2 separate regions of the Homo sapiens genome follow, and region 1 is linked to region 2. The links come from fine-mapping of genetic effects on gene expression. Tissue or cell type: whole blood. Region 2 holds a variant in brackets; the other region holds the start of a gene. All regions are shown on one strand. Distances are from middle to middle.

What was found. PIP is the estimated chance that this variant, and not a neighbour inherited with it, causes the effect.
Region 1: DCHS1 starts here. The variant in region 2 is fine-mapped to the expression of DCHS1 in whole blood (INTERVAL, PIP above 0.99).

The regions. Positions count from the first base shown.
Region 1 is chr11:6,651,171-6,659,350 of GRCh38, reverse strand. DCHS1 (dachsous cadherin-related 1) reads left to right here and starts at 3,542. Exons shown (of 21, transcript NM_003737.4): 1 at 3,542-3,788.
Region 2 is chr11:6,704,637-6,712,816 of GRCh38, reverse strand. No RefSeq gene overlaps it. Among named protein-coding and RNA genes, the nearest start is that of MRPL17, 25 kb to the right of the region's middle. The variant G/TG (reference allele first, on the strand shown) is at 4,713.

The DNA.
Region 1 (8,180 bases), 53 kb after region 2:
CCCCCTATATCCACAACCCCATGCTCTCCTCTATTGTACCTTCTGTTGTCAGTTGAGAGGTCTGTCTTCACAGCTTACCATGAGTTCCTTAGTCATGTCTTAATTTTTGTATCTTAACTATAAAGTTGCACATAGCAGGCACCTAAATGTATCTTCAATAAATGAAGGAAGCAAGAAAATAAATGAATTTGGATTCTTCTATTTGAAAAACTTCCTGACCCCCTAAAACTCCTATCCCTTACGCCAGTTATAGGTCTCTCTCCTCCCCTGTAGTTAGGCCTCCTTAAAGAATAAGCTCTACTCCAAGTCTTCAGTTCCTCACCTTCCACTCACTCCTTAGTTACTGAGTGCTAATTAGCCTTCATCCTTACCACTCCACCTACCACATTGTCCCCAAGGTCACCAGCCTGCCCCCTAGGCCCCAGCCAAATCCAATGGATACTTTTCAGTCCTTACCTCACTGGCCTCCTCTGTGTCATTCCAACCTAATGACCTCTCCTCACTTCATGGCTTCTTCTGTGGCCATTCCCTGGGCTTCAGTGGCACCACTCACCTCCCTTTCTTTCTCCTCCCTGTCTGGCCACATCCTCTCACTTTCCTTTGAGGGCTCCTCCTCTTCTCAACCTTTACATGTTGGAGCTTCTCAGCATCTGTCCTAGACCTTCTTTTCTTCCTAATGTACATGCTCTCCCTCTGTAATCTCATTCACTCCCTTACCTTCACTTACCATCTGTCACACTTACTATACAATACAGCTTACTGTATACAAAGCAACACAAATTGGGTTGTTGAGGACATTTCAGGTTAATGGGTCTTGCCCAAACAGTAATTTTTCATTTTTCCCAGTGAGAAGATCCAAAAAGCTTTTCAACCAACCTAGAAATGTAAACCTTTAAGGATGAGGATGAAACAATCAAAAGTGTACTTCTATGAGTTAATGGACTTTATTGGACATATATTTAAATTCATATATCATATAAAAATATATAACTGATAAATATTGTCTTTTCCATTCTCATAAATTATGAAGCAATTTTATGCATACTCAACACAAGCAGTGTCTTTCTCATCATTAGGATCACTTTTTCAGCCATCTTACATGTTTTCCCAGAACAGATGTCCTTCTCTTCAGTTTAAGCGAAGGGCTTGGGAGAGGACACAGCACAGTTTGAATTCACAGATGATGCAGTCCTTGGAAACTTTATCCTAAGTCACAAGTTTCCTTTGCATCACACTAGAACAGTTGGTTTTTTGCATGCACCCTGCCTGAGTATATTCATGACTTCAAAACATCACTTAATGTAATACTTTTTAAAAATTATATTTCTGTTAACTTTTTTTACTGAAATATAACATCTATATGGAAAAGGCCACAAGCCATCATAAATATTCAGCTCAATGAACTGTCAGAGTGAAACATCCCTCAGGTCCATATAACCACTCAGGTCAAGAAATAGAACATTTTCGGCAGCCCAGAAACCTCTTCCAAGTACTACTGTATTGCTTTTTAAAGCAATCTTTAAAAAGCATATTTTGAGACATCCAACACATGCGATTATGAGGTCATACTACCAGGAATAGTTACCAAAGCTGTGTTAAATTTCTTTGACTACAATACATCCAAAATAGCATTGTTGAGGACATTTCAGGTCAATGGGTCTTAGCCAAACAGTAAAAATAGTTAGCATTTATTGGACACTTACCATATAGTGCCAGGTATATAGTGCTTTATATATATTACATAATTTAATCCTTAGGCCCACTTTATAGATGAGAAAACTGAGGCAGAGACAAGTTAAGTAACTTTCCCAGTGCCACACAGCTTGTAAATAGGAGAGTCTGGACCCCGAGCCAGGGAGTCTGGCTCCAGAGTCCACAAGCTTAGTCACCATACCATACTGCCCTATCCAGTGGTTTGTTGTTCAAAATAAAGTAAATGAGAGCAAACCCTGTAATATGAGAGACCTTGTAAGGACTCAAATATAAGGTTACTCCCTCTTTCCTGAGGGATGATTTTGGAAAAACAAAAAAGCAAAAACTTCACCCTATATTCAAGCTTATACGGCATTTGCAGATGACTCCCAAATATTTATGTCCATCCCAGACCGCTCCTCTAAGTTGCAGACCTACCTACCCAACCAGCACTTCAAAGTCAGCAGCCCCAAGTCACAGTCATCATCTCCTCATACGAACCCCCTGCAGCCTCCTGCTGCTCCTTTTGTGGAGCACAGCCAGCCTCACCACCATCCATCCACCCAGCTGCCCAAGCGCCGTGGATATGATCAAGGACCCCAGTCTCTCCCTCACTCCTCTTCCAAAATCACACTCCCTTCTTCTTCAGCTGAAACTGTGTTCCTTCTCCACAGAAGTTCCTGATTTCTTTGTGCCATTTGTACACATCTCAAGTCCAGAAAACCTGTTTTTCTCACAGTCTACTCGCAGTCCTAAGGAAGAAGGACAGGAGTCAGAACTCTTCCCAGTTCCTTTAAGATTGCTTGCTCTTTGTCTCTGTCTGATTTCCCCTCTCCCCATATTCTCTCCCAAGTTGGTTTTTTGAGCCCCTTCCCACTTCCCTGCCCGGTTTCCTCCTCACTTAATTTTTCTAGGGAGTATATCGTGAGTGGGACCACCATCCCCAAAGCTCTTCTTTCCAATATCTCCCGATCTCTACCCTCAAATTTGGGATAAAGAGAAAGTGGGGGAAAGGGAGCCTGGGGGTGAAGGAGAGAAAAGAGACAGAAATCATGGGATAATGAAAAGTGACTAACAGGGGAGAAGGCCGAGGTTACGATGGAAGAAGGGGAAGAGACAGCGGGTAGTGAAAAGGGCAGGGGTGAGAAAAGGGAATGAGGAGAAGGCGTGAGGAAAAGGGGATGATGAGGTGAGGCGAAAGACACAGGGAGAAGGGGATGGGGAGAAAGGTGGGGAGAAGAGACGGGGAGAAAGGGATAGGAAGAAAAGGATAAAAGGAGAGGTGGGGAAGGAGAATCTGATGTAAAGAGGCTGGAGAGAGATCAAGCAGAAGGGGTAAGGAGAAGAGAAAGGGGAGAAGAGCTGGGGAGAAAATGATGGAGATGGGGCGAGAAGAAGAGGATGGGAGAAAGGCAGAGGGGAATGGAGATGACGGTTGGGAAAAAGAAGGGGCGAGAGGGAGACCAGGGCACTGAGGGAGAAGAGGGGAATAGGGGATGGAAAGAAGATGGAAGAGGAGGAGGTGAGCAGCAGGGAGCGGCGAGAAGGGGAAGAGACGAGAGGGCGTAGAGAACCGAATGGGAGGAGAGGACGGGAGAAGTGACGGGGAGAAGGGAAGGGAACCGGGACGGGGGCGCGGCGCGGCGCTGGGGCCGGATCCGGAGCCGGGGCCTGGGGCCGGGAAGTGGAGGGGCGGAGGGAGGCCGGGCGGGCGCCGGGGGGAAGGGGGGGCGGCGGCGCGGAGCGCGGGTGGGGGCGGGGGCGGGGGCTCCGCGGGCGGAGGGGCGGGGGCTCGGGTTACCGCGCGGAGGGCGGGGGGAGGGGAGGGGAGGGGGCGCGGGGCCGCGGCAGCGGAGCTCGCATCCTCGGCGGGGCGGCTGTGCAGGAGGCGGCGCCCGGGCGTCAGCGGACGGACCGATCGACGGCCAAGGGCGCGCGGACCGACGGCGGCTGCCCGGAGGGGATCGCGGGCCTCGGAGACAGCGACTGCGGACGATGCGCGGCCTCAGGCCCCGCGCGAGCGGGCGCTGCCCGGGGGGCTGACCGCGGCCGGACGGCGCCCCAGCACCGGGCGAGGGAGCCCGCGTCGCGCGGAGGTCAGTGCCCGCGCCCGCCCGGCCCGTCTGGCCGCGCCCGCCCTGCCCGCCGGCCTCCCCTGGGCTGCGGCAGCGGCGGCGGAGCCGGGGGCTTTGTTCTGAGCCGGAGACAATGGGGGAGGGGGGGCCTGGGCCTGCGGGACCCGGGCGGGCGTGAACGTGAGCGTGGGGGCAGGGCCTGGGGGTCTTTGTGTGCGTGTGTCATCGAGTCGGGGAGGGTGGCGGCGGGAGCGTGCGCCGGGGGTGTGGGGTGCGACAGCGTTGTGTTCCAGTGCATCGTCGGAGTGTGTCAGTGCGTGTCACTGGGAGGTTGTGTGTCCCTGGGCGTCTCTCTGGCTGTGTGTGCATGTGCGTGTCACTCTGAGGGTGTGAGGGTCAGAATGACCGTGTGTCATGGTGAGCGAGTCCCTGTGAGGGTGTGTTGCCCGCTCTGTGGGAGCCCATGTGTCAGAATGTGGAGGATGGGTGTGTGACAGAGACCAACTGAGACAGAGACAAAGAAACTGAGTGGGGAGAAGTACAGAGAAGCAGAGGAGAGGCAGGCACAGCCTGAAGTGGATGGAGGGGGGGGTCACCCAGACGTGTTCTGAGTGGGAGATTGGAGCAACTGGGAGTTTGTGTCTGGGATACCCAGCTCAGAATCCCGTGCAGGGGACAGAGCAAGGTCACCGCAGGCGTGGGTCCCACGTGGAGGGGGTGGGGAGAGGGAGGTCTAGAAGCACAATGAACTCAGTGTGGCGGGCTGGGCCCACAGCCACAAGGTCATAGGCCAGAAAAATATTGTCGCTTATGTCAACTTCTCAAATACCCATAGGGACACAGTCATAGCCCTACTCAACCCACAAGAGGACACAGTCCCAGGGAACACACATCCTCAAGAGATACCCTCACAGCCATCATACACTTCCAGGAAGCCCACCCCCAGGAAGCACCCCCAGTCAGAACCAACACACACCTACAGCAGACTCTATCAAGCCAACACACACCTACGGAAAATGCTCTCATGACAACACACACCCACAGGAGAAATGCTGCAACCAACATACTCCCACCGGTTCATTGTCAAGGCCAACACATACCATGGAAGACATTGTTACTGCTAACACTCTCCAGAAACACTGTCACCAGCAACAAACAAGTAGACCAGCACCTCTCAGGAGACATTGTCACTGCAATCCACATCCATCAGAAGCACTGTCACAACTGTCACAGCACATCTTATTAGGTTTACTTCCTTGGAGCTGCCCATACATAGTGGGTGTCCTAGAAGCCTGTCACTAACAGGAGGCTGTGCCACAGTTGCCCTTACCACACAGCCACTTGTACAACCCCCAGGAGACAGTCATGGATGGCATGCACACCACAGGAAGACCTGTCCCAACTTCTGAATAAACTCTGCTTAACTTATCAAGCTCACACCTTCACCCCTTCTCATACGTAGATCTCCCAGGTATACCCTCTTGTTCCCTGAAAACTTCGAGATCTGGATAGTGTATCCTGCCATGGTTTCTCAGTGTCCTTCAACACCACAGCTTCACAGATTCTTGACCTCCTTAGCTCCTGTTACCTTCCTCCCTCCCAGGACCACTCTGTAGAACTATTCCACCTTTAAAATTCTAAACTCTTGCATTCCTCTCTCTACCCACAACCTCCTATATCCTTCCAGCTTTCAGATGTTCTCGCTCCCATTACACTCTTTGACCTCATAATGACCTCTTGCCCTTGACCTCTTTGTTTTCTCCTACTCTGTTCCTTTCTGACTTTGTGCTTTCTTTCCAGCTCATATGCTAAGGATCATCCCTTCAACCACTCCTTGGCCACTGTGTTTCCTTGTCTTCTATACTCATCCCTCAAATTATTGCCCCTAACTAGAATGATTTCTCAACCACACCAGGGGACGCTTCTATAAATTCATACTTCTAAAAAATTCAAACCTCAACTGGGCCCTTCATAAATAAATAGATGATTTTTTTTCTATTTTCTTCACACTCATTACCCCACATCCCTCACACCATTGTTTTCAGTAGATTAATTAATCAAAACGCTAATTCATTCATTTAACAAACACATACTAGGCACCTACTCTGCTAGGCATTGTGATGAGAGTTGGCAGCACAAGTGTGAACAAAATGGACATGGTCCTTATCCTCATGGAGCTTACAGGCTGTGGAGTGAGTGTTGTAACACAGCAGCACACAGCAGAGTAACCTAGGCCAGTGTAGGGAGGTCAGAAGAGTCTTTCTGGAGGAAGTGGCATTTAAACTTAAACTTGATGGAGTGGGTGGAGAATATGCCAAGCCAAGGGAGCAGCATGTAAAAGCCCACATGAAGGAAAATAGTGTGTGTGTGAGGGATAAAGCAGTTCAGTGAGCCTGACACTTACAGCATGAGGTGACGAGAGAGGGAGAGTCTGTGGGAGAGGTAAATGGAGGCTTAGACCATGCAGGGTCTAGGAGGCCACAGAAAGAAATTCATTTAACCCAAGAATAATGGAGAGTCACCAAATCATTGGAAGCTTGGAGCGATATGATCAGATTCATTTTAGAAATACCACTCTGACAGCCATGTGGAGACTGGAGAAAGAGCCTGAGAAGAAGGACAGTTGGCTGTTGCAGAAACTCTGGAGGGTATAACACTGGCCTGAACTGGAGTAGTGGCCGGAGAGAAGGAGAAAGTGGATGGTTTCAAGAGCTCTTTAGGCAGTGGGATCAGCAGGGCTCAGTGACAAAGCAGACATGGTGGGGTGAAGGAAAGGAAGGAATTAAGAGTGGACAACCTGGTCTTCTGGCTCACTGAGGAAATTGAGGCCATCTGTTTTGAATTCCCTCAGATTTCTGCCTCCTCCCTCAAATTTTATCTGCATCCTCTTCAATCTTTTCTCCTTCCTTCCTATAAGAACGAAGTGCTGTCTCTTCTACTTAAGGCCAATCCTCTACCTGTGTTACGGATCCCATCCCCTTCCTCTTCCACAGGGACCTCACTCAACTGATTATTCCATGTGTTTCCCACGTCTCCAGTTCCTTCCTTTCTCCCATTCCTCCTGGGAGGACATAAAGATCCTCCAGCCTCTCCTATCTTTCTTTAACCCTGTAATACCCCGTTAACTAAGAGGCTTCCTCACTTTTCTTCACTGTCACATTTTGTGAAAGAGTCTTCTGCATATAGCTGTTCCTACTTCCTCACTTCCCATTTGTGCCTGCCCCTCAAATGTAACTGCTTTCCCTAGGAGAAAGTAACATCTCTTCTGCTCAATCTGGAGGATCTTTTCAAAAGTCCTTAACTGCCTGACCTCTCGGGAGGAGCTGACATTATTGACCATTCTTTTCTCCTTGAGTTGTTTTTGTTGTTTGGCTTCTGAGCCATGATTTTATTCTATCAACATTTAACAGGCAAATAAGTGGAAAGTTACATTATGGTATGTATCTCTTCTGGAGCTCCTCCTAGCTGTTCTCTCAGTCTGCTTTGAGGGATCCTTTGTATGCCCCCTGAATGTCACTGTTCCTTAAAGTTCTGGCTTGGACCTTCTTATTGTCTCACTGTATACACACCTCTAGGTAATCAATTTCATTCATTTTTCAAGGCTTTTATTAACATCTATAGGCTGATGACTCACAGACATCTCTCTTCTAGGCCACATTTCTGCATACCTGCTGCATGCCTGCTCTTTACTGTATAGCTCACCGACCCCTTATCATGTGCAAACCTGATCTCATCATTCCTTCCTTCCCCAAATGACCATCCCCACTCAGGTTGCAAGCTGGAATCCCAGAAATTAACTGTCACCATTCCCTTCTCCACGTATCCCATAATCCAGAAATCCCTTGGAACGTGTTGGTTCTATCTTCTCTCCAGCAATCTCTGATATCCCATCCCCTTTTCTCCATCACCTCTGCTGTTGCCCTCATCTACCATCTTTTCACATGAATTTTTGCAAGAGCCTCCTAACTTTTCTTTCTACACTTCTCTTCCTTCTTTCAATCCATTCTTTTCATTGGAGTAACAGACACCTTCCTAAAGTACAAATCCAACTATGTCACTCCCTGCTCAGCATTATTCAAATGCCTTCCATTTTCCTTGAACAAAATCTTTTCTTTTTAACAAAGGTTATGAGATCATAGTCTGACCTCCCCAAGCCTCCCAGTCTCATCACCTGCCCCATTTCCCCAGCCCCCTCACGTTTTGAGTTTCAGCCATACTGAATTTCCTGTAGTTCACCAAAGACACTACCTTTTTCCATGCTTCTGACCCTTTGCACATACTGCTCTGCCTGCCTGAAAGGCCCTTCACTCCCTTCCCTCCTGGCTTATCCCTTCCCTTCCTCATATCTGGTCTCAAACCCTGCCTTTAATGACTCCACCGGGCAGGCTTGAACTCTGTGTTTCGTTGTTGTCA
Region 2 (8,180 bases):
CGTTGGCTTCCATTTACAGGTGTACTCTATCTTCCATAAACAGTGAAAATAGACAGCCCAGGGAGCAGTAACCAAGTGACTTGGATCTTCAGAGCATGGAGATAGGAATGCTGACTCTATCTCCTTTGTCCTCTCAAAGGGCTTCAAGCCTATTCTCAATGTCAGGTCAAATGACTCATCTCTCCAGAAAAAGTTTGAGGACAGAAAAATTACAAAGGAAACATGTTCTTGGAGAGTATAGTTTTTCTTTTGTTCTCTGGAAAATAATGTTAGTGAGAGTTGGAAGGATCTCCTAAAACAACAAAATGGAAATATGATAGAAGCAGAACCCCTGCCCCACATGGTGCCTGTCTCTCACATCACTGTAACCTTAAAAACTGTGTAGGGGCCAGCCCCACAGGGTTGGTGGGTTTCTCCCCATGTGCAGAGACAAGAGAACGTAGAAATAAAGACGCAAGACAAAGAGGTAAAAGAAAAGACAGCTGGGCCCAGGGGACCACTACCACCAAGACGCGGAGACCGGTAGTGGCCCTGAATGTCTGGCTGCGCAGTTATTTATTGGATACAAAGCAAAAGGGGCAGGGTAAAGAGTGTGAGTCATCTCCAATGATAGATAAGGTCACGTGGGTCACATGTCCACTGGACAGGGGTCCCTTCCCTGCCTGGCAGCCAAGGCAGAGAGACAGAGGGAGAGAGAGAGAGACAGCTGACACCATTATTTCTGCATATCAGAGACTTTTAGTACTTTCACTAATTTTGCTACTGTTATCTAAAAGGCAGAGCCAGGTGTACAGGATGGAACATGAAAACGGACTAGGAGCGTGACCACTGAGGCACAGCATCACAGGGAGACGGTTAGGCCTCCAGATAACTGCGGGCGGGCCTGACTGATGTCAGGCCCTCCACAAGAGGTGGAGGAGTAGAGTCTTCTCTAAACTCCCCCGGCGAAAGGGAGACTCCCTTTCCTGGTCTGCTAAGTAGTGGGTGTTTTTCCTTGACACTGACGCTACCGCTAGACCACAGTCCACTTGGCAAAGGGAGTCTTTCCAGACACTGGCATCACCACTAGACCAAGGAGCCCTCTGGTGGCCCTGTCTGGGCATAGCAGAAGCCTCGCACTCTTCTGGTCACTTCTCACTGTGTCCCCTCAGCTCCTATCTCTGTATGGCCTGGTTTTTCTTAGGTTATGATTGTAGAGCAAGGATTATTATAATATTGGAATAAAGAATAATTACTACAAACTAATGATTAATGATATTCATATATAATCATATCTAAGATATATATCTAGTATAACTATTCTTATTTTATATATATTATCATATATATAATATATATTATAATATAATATAGTATAGTATATTTTATATATTATACTGGAACAGCTCGTGCCCTTGGTCTCTTGCCTCAGCACCTGGGTGGCTTGCCGCCCACAAACTGCTCACTGTTCAATTACCATTTTCAGAATGCTTTTTATGTTTGTTTGATGAATTCATAAAAGTCTCTAATGTGAAATAAGCCAAGCACAGAAAGACAAATAATGCATGTTTGGCCGGGTGTGGTGGCTCACGCCTGTAATCCTGACACTTTGGGAGGCCGAGGCGGGCAGATCCCCTGAGGTCAGGAGTTTGAGACCACCCTGGCCAACATGGTGAAACCTCGTCTCTACTAAAAATACAAAAACAATTAGACAGGCGTGGTGGCAGGCGCCTGTAATTCTAGCCACTTGGGAGGCTGAGGCAAGAGAATTGTTTGAACCAGGGAGGCAGAGGTTGCAGTGAACCGAGATCGTGCCATTGTAATCCAGCCTGAGCAAGAGAGCAAGACTTGGTCTCAAAAGAAAAAAAAAAAGATAAATAACACATGTTCTCTCATAGGTCAGTACTAAAAGAGTTGCTCTCATAGAAGTAAACAGAACAGTGGTTACTAGAGGCTGGGAAGGGAAAGGCTGTAAAAGGGATAGGGAGAGGTTGGTTAAAGAATACAAAATTACAGCTAGATAGGAGGAATAAGTTCTAGGGTTCTATAGTTCTGGAGGGTGACTATAGTTAGCAATAATTCATTGTATATTTTCAAAAAGTGAGAAGAAAAGATTTTAATGATCTTAACATAAAGAAATGATCAATGTTTAAGGTGATAGATATGCTAATTACCCTGATCTAATCATTACACATTATATACATGTATCAAAATCTCACCCTGCACATACACCATGGAATACCATGCAGCCATAAAATGAACAAGATTATGCCTTTTGCAGGAACATAGATGGAGCTGGAGACCATTGTCCTTAGCAAACTAATGCAGGAACAGAAAAATAAATACTGCACGTTCTCACTTATAAGTGGGAGCTAAATGATGAGAACTCATGGACTCAAAGAGAGGAACAACAGACACTGGGACCTACCTGAGAGTGGAGGGTGGGAGGAGAGAGAGGACCAGAAAGATGAAGAAGCAGGTATAAGCCAAATGTTGAGAGTTAGAGAATGCCAGCCTGCAGTTGTCATCACCCAGGCTTAGTACCTGGGTGATGAAATAATCTGTACAACAAACCCTCATGACACGAGTTTACCTATATAACAAATCTGCACATGTAACCCTGAGGCTAAATAAAAGTTTTTTAAAATCTCACTCTGTACTGCATAAACATGTATGAATATTATGTGTGAATTAAACGTTTTTAACATCCTTTAACAAGGTATCATATATATGTTAACCTTGACTTTCAAACCAAAATTAGTGTGTATAAAATTTCAAAAGTCTTTGATAAATTCCTCAGGATTTTAAGCTGCATGGTTATTAAATGAGATTCAGAGGCCGTTCTCAAGAAATCACACAAAAGATGGGAAAAAGGTAAATTGGGATAAAGCAAAGATGCCTGTGTAGAGATGGGGATTTCTGTGATAGAAGTGGAGAGAGTAGCGCTGCCATCAAGGTGGGGTTAGGATTGGAGAGGATTAGTGTCAGTGGGTTGGGTGGCACTGGGGCGAGAGACCTCAGGAGTCAGGAGGGATGAGATCATCAAGAAGGGGAGACACCTGCGTTCAAAATCCTCACTCTGTAAACATATTAGACCAGTCTTTCTAGTTCTAAGTTTGTACGATTATCAGATTTATTTATTTTGAGATGGAGTCTCACTCTGTTGCCCAGGCTGGAGTGCAGTAGTGGTGCGATCTCGGCTCACTGCAACCTCTGCCTCCCGGGTTCAAGTGATTCTCCTGCCTCAGCCTCCTGAGTAGCTGGGATTACAGGCGCATGCCACCACGCCTGGCTAATTTTTGTATTTTTAGTAGAGACGGGGTTTCACCATGTTGGTCAGGCTGGTCTCGAACTCCTGACCTCGTGATCCACCCGCCTCGGCCTCTCAAAATGCTGAGATTACAAGTGTGAGCCACCATGCCCGGCTGATTATCAAATTTATTTACTGATCTACTAATCATCATGGTACAAGTAATTCAAAATGAAAATATCATCTATTAACAAATTGTTTTGTGAAACCAAAAAAAAGGGGGGGGTGGTCAGGGGGAGACACTGGGTCTAGGTGCAGCTCACAGGATTAGAGGTAGCTAGAGTTATGACATTGGCAGGAACAGGGCTCTCATGGTCAGTGGAATGGGGCAGAGTCATTGCAAGTGGGAAACAGAGACATGGGAGTTGGGGATCACTTCAGTAGATTTAGGGATGTTCCAGTCAGTTAAAGCAGAGAACCAAGTACAGTGGGAAAGAAGGAGTCACAAGGCCTGTAGAAAAGGGAAGCAGGGTGATGGATTCTAGAACAACATCAAATCACATGAATAAGTTGTGAGTTACTTACATGTGGAATCTAAATTTGAAATCATAGAAGTAGAAAGTAGAATGTTTGTGGTCAGGTGCGGTGGCTCATGCCAGTAATCCCAGAACTTTGGGAGGTTGAGGCAGGCGGATCACATGAGGTCAGGAGTTGTAGACCAGCCTGGGCAGCACAGTGAAGCCCCATCTCTACTGAAAATACAAAAATTAGCCGGGTGTTGTGGCGGGCGCCTGTAATCCCAGCTACTCAGGAGGCTGAGACAGGAGAATCACTTGAACCTGGGAGGCAGAGGTTGCAGTGAGCTGAGATAGCTCTACTGCACTCCAGCTTGGGCGGCACATGGAGACTGTCTCAAAAACATAAAAAAATAAAAAGAAAAAAGAAGGAAAGTAGAATGTTTGTTACCAGAAGCTGGGATGGTGGGTGGGGGAAAGCAGAAGTGTAGGTCAAAGGGTACAAAGAGAGAGAGGAAGCAAGAAGAAGGTAATTCAAGATGAAGAAGCAGGTATAAGCCAAGTGTTGAGAGTTAGAAAATGCCAGCCTGTGAAAGCCAGGCTGTTAGTTGTGCGAAGGGCCTCCACTATTTACTACATGTATGACCTTGGATGAGTTAGTTAACCTGTCTCTGCTTCATTTCCTTCATACATAAAATGGTGCAACCTCAGTGAAGTGTTAAGAATAACGTGAAACAATACATATGCCTGAAACATGGTACACGTGCCAATAATGTTAGGTAGTAGCAATGCCAACAACAGCAGAAGCAGCAATAACCGCAGCAAAAGTCACGTTAATAGAAGTAATTATAGCATTTATTAACATTATTATTGCTATTATACTGAAATGTAGTTGTGGCTACACTCCATCTTAATTGTTAAGGTCCTGAAGAAGAGGGTCCAAGTTCTTTTTTTTTTTTTTTTTTTTT[G/TG]AGATACAGTCTTGCTCTGTCGCCCAGGCTGGAGTGCAGTGGTGCAATCTCGGCTCACTGCAACCTCTCAGGCTCAAGCGATTCTCCTGCCTCAGCCTCCCGAGTGGCTGGGATTACAGGCACCTGCCACCACTCCCAGATAATTTTTATACTTTTTAGTAGAGAGGAGGTTTTGCCATGTTGGCCAGGCTGGTCTCAAACTCCTGACCTCAGGCGATCTGCCTGCCTCAGCCTCCCAAAGTGCTGGGATTACAGGTGTGAGCCACCACGCTGGGCCAGTCCAAGTTCTTTATTTTGACTGAAACAGTGTTTATAAATGTGCTTTCCTTATTGTTTCCTGTATCTATAGTTTATTTTCTCTGAATAGGATTTTTAAAATACAATAGAATTAAAATGTAAACCTCAAAAAAGGGGTGAGGAATGGAGGGAAGATATGTGAGTAGGCCAGGACAGAATGAGAGCGTCGTTGTGGGTTCCTGAGGCAACAGTTATCCAATGTCATTGTTATTTTTAATGAAATTCAAGGAATTTGCATTTATTCCAAATTGGAAAAGATGTGAACCAGGAACAACCTGCCTGACAGTTTATGTATCTTTGGCGATTTTCCTTTGAACCATGGGAAAAATCATGTTTATCTTGTAGTTTACATTGTAATTCTCATCCACTCCTCTGTGAAGACGTGGAACTGTGCCACCCAGAACCTCCTGCAAGAGAAGACTTGCTGCCCAACTGAGGGGAATGAAGTAAGCAGCCAGGCTTCAGCTGTCAGATCTTCCCAATCTGCCTCAATTGCAGGGAGCCCCTTCACCTGAGGTAATGCCCTTCCTGGGGTAGCCTGTATCCAGAGGCTGAGACAGAAAAGAAAGACCCAGCCATTGTAGCCTGACACAGGATGCTTTGTTGGTCTTCACTCTACAGAGCTCTCCACCAGGTTCAGGGAAGGTTTGTAAGGCCTGCATCACGGCTCAATGTCTTTCTCTGCCAAATCCTACTTTTGCCCCTTTTCTTCACAGGCGTTGATCCCTAATAAACATCTTGCCCTCCACACTGTTCTACCGTCTGCTCTTGGGGAAATCAACCTGCAACCTACTTCAAGGCATTGGTAGATATTGCTATGTCAAGATAGATTTGGACAATGGGGTGATGGATACTAAAGAGGTAGTGCAAAAAGAAAATGAGGGGCATACAACATTCTCCTCTTCCCAACACCTGTATGAAGAAAGCAGCATCCTTTTGAGGAGTGAGAGAATACAGATCTTTCAGAAGTGAGCAGCAGGCAGGAAAGTGGCCTACAGCCCTGTTGAGAGCAGCAGAGAGGAGCATGAGACATAGCTGCCAGATGGGAAATTCATTAGTAAGTGATCATTAGAAAACAGGAAACTGGTGGATGAAAATAAAAGAAGTAAAACTGATAAGCAAGTAAGAACAGATATTTCTTCTACGTGGCTTTCGAATTGGGGGTAGGAGGGGTGGAGTCAAGGAATGAAGCCTAGGCCTTGCAAATGCATCCCTTAGGAAAAGTGAAATGGAAGTAACGGTTACATCAAGCCAAAACAAGGAGCTTTGACTTGGTCCCACATGCTGCGATCTAGAATTGTTCCTGGCACAGCTAAAGCTTTATCATCCTATGTAATGGGGAGGCACCTATGGATGCAAGTAGAGATTACCCCCTTATATCAACCACATTAAATCCATAAAGTTTCCCCAAAGCCTTTCCTGCCTCAGCATCTAACTTCCTTCTTCTGAGTCTCTGGAGTCCCAGCGCGGCAGGAAAATGGAAATCATAATATAGCGTTCATAGATACAGAATGGCAGCGTCAGGAGCAACTACAGTTCTTAGTAAGAGCATCACAGACCCTCTCAGCCATGAATTAACTTGCTCTTTTTCTACCTCCCTTTGTAACTATAGCTACCCTTCTTAGGGCCTCCCATCTTTTTTCTGAGGCCCTAGTTTGGTTTCTGGCTGAAACTACATGGGAGTTGCAGGCACTTCTCTCACCACCAGATGGTGATAAAGAGCCTATCAGGATAATGAATTCTGAGATTTCCCAACTCCGGCATAGTTAACATTTAGAGCCAGATAATTTATTGTGGGAAACTCTCTGTGCGTTATAAGATGTCTAGTAGCACCTCTGGCCTCTATCCATTAAATGTGAGTAGCACTATTCACAGTTATGGCAACAAAAATGTCTCTAGACATTGTCAAATGTCCCTGAAACATTTGCATTGCCCCGGTGGAGAACCACTGTGAAATGAGGTGTTCAAGAGTTTTAAATAGGAGAAAGAAAATGAATGCAATTTTGATGAAATTTTTGAAAAGCTTTCTTATTTTTTACAATATTACATTTATTGAAAAAATTCAAAAATGTGGAAAAACATAAGAAAATCAGACACCCAAAATCCTGTCATCCAGATTAACTTTGGTGAACATTTTTATACTCATCCTTCTAGGCATATGGACACATAGTGGAAAACATACAATTTTGCATACATGGCAATGTATAATATATATACTCCAAAATTTCACTCATAAATGGCACTGCAGTTAACATACATCTTTGAACATAATTTTTTTTTTTGAGATGGAGTCTCACTCTGTCACACAGGCTGGAGTGCAGTGGCGCAATCTCGGCTCACTGCAACCTCTGCCTCCTGGGTTCAGGCGATTCTCCTGCCTCAGCCTCCCAAGTAGCTGGGATTACAGGTCCATGCCACTATGCCCAGCTAATTTTTGTATTTTTACTAGAGACGGGGTTTTGCCATGTTGGCCAGGCTGGTCTCGAACTCCTGACCTCAGGTGATCTGCCCACCTCAGCCTCCCAAAGTGCTGGGATTACAGGCATGAGCCACCATGCCCAGCCTGAACATACATCTTTGCACAGGTTGAGTGTGACAGTTTTTCACTCCACATTTCCTATATATCTACAATTTTGCCACGACAGGACCCAGAGCTTTACAAAGTAATTTGGACATAGATATTCTTCCAAAGATGTACAAAAACTGCTGGAAAGAATGTGAACATTCCCAGTGCAGTGGCTCATGCTGTCTCTACTAAAAATACAAAAATTAGCCAGGCATGGTGGCGGGTGCCTGTAATCCCAGCTACTCAGGAGGCTGAGGCAGGAGAATCACTTGAACCGGGAGGTGCAGGTTGCAGTGAGCTGAGATCGCACCACTGCACTCCAGCCTGGGCAACAGAGCAAGACTCCATCTCAAAAAAAAATTGTGAATAGAAGATAGAATAAATATAATTCGTGACATGGAAATGCAAGGTGGAAATTTTGGCAAAAATTGAGAGATAACTGATTAGATGTCAGGGATATCTTCACAGACATGGGCCTAGATATAAGCAGTATAAATGTTAGTCTCAGCCAGTTGTCGTGGCTCACACCTGCAATCCCAGCACTTTGGGAGGTCAAGGCAGGTGGCTCACTTGAGGTCAGGAGTTCAAGACAACCCTGGCCAACA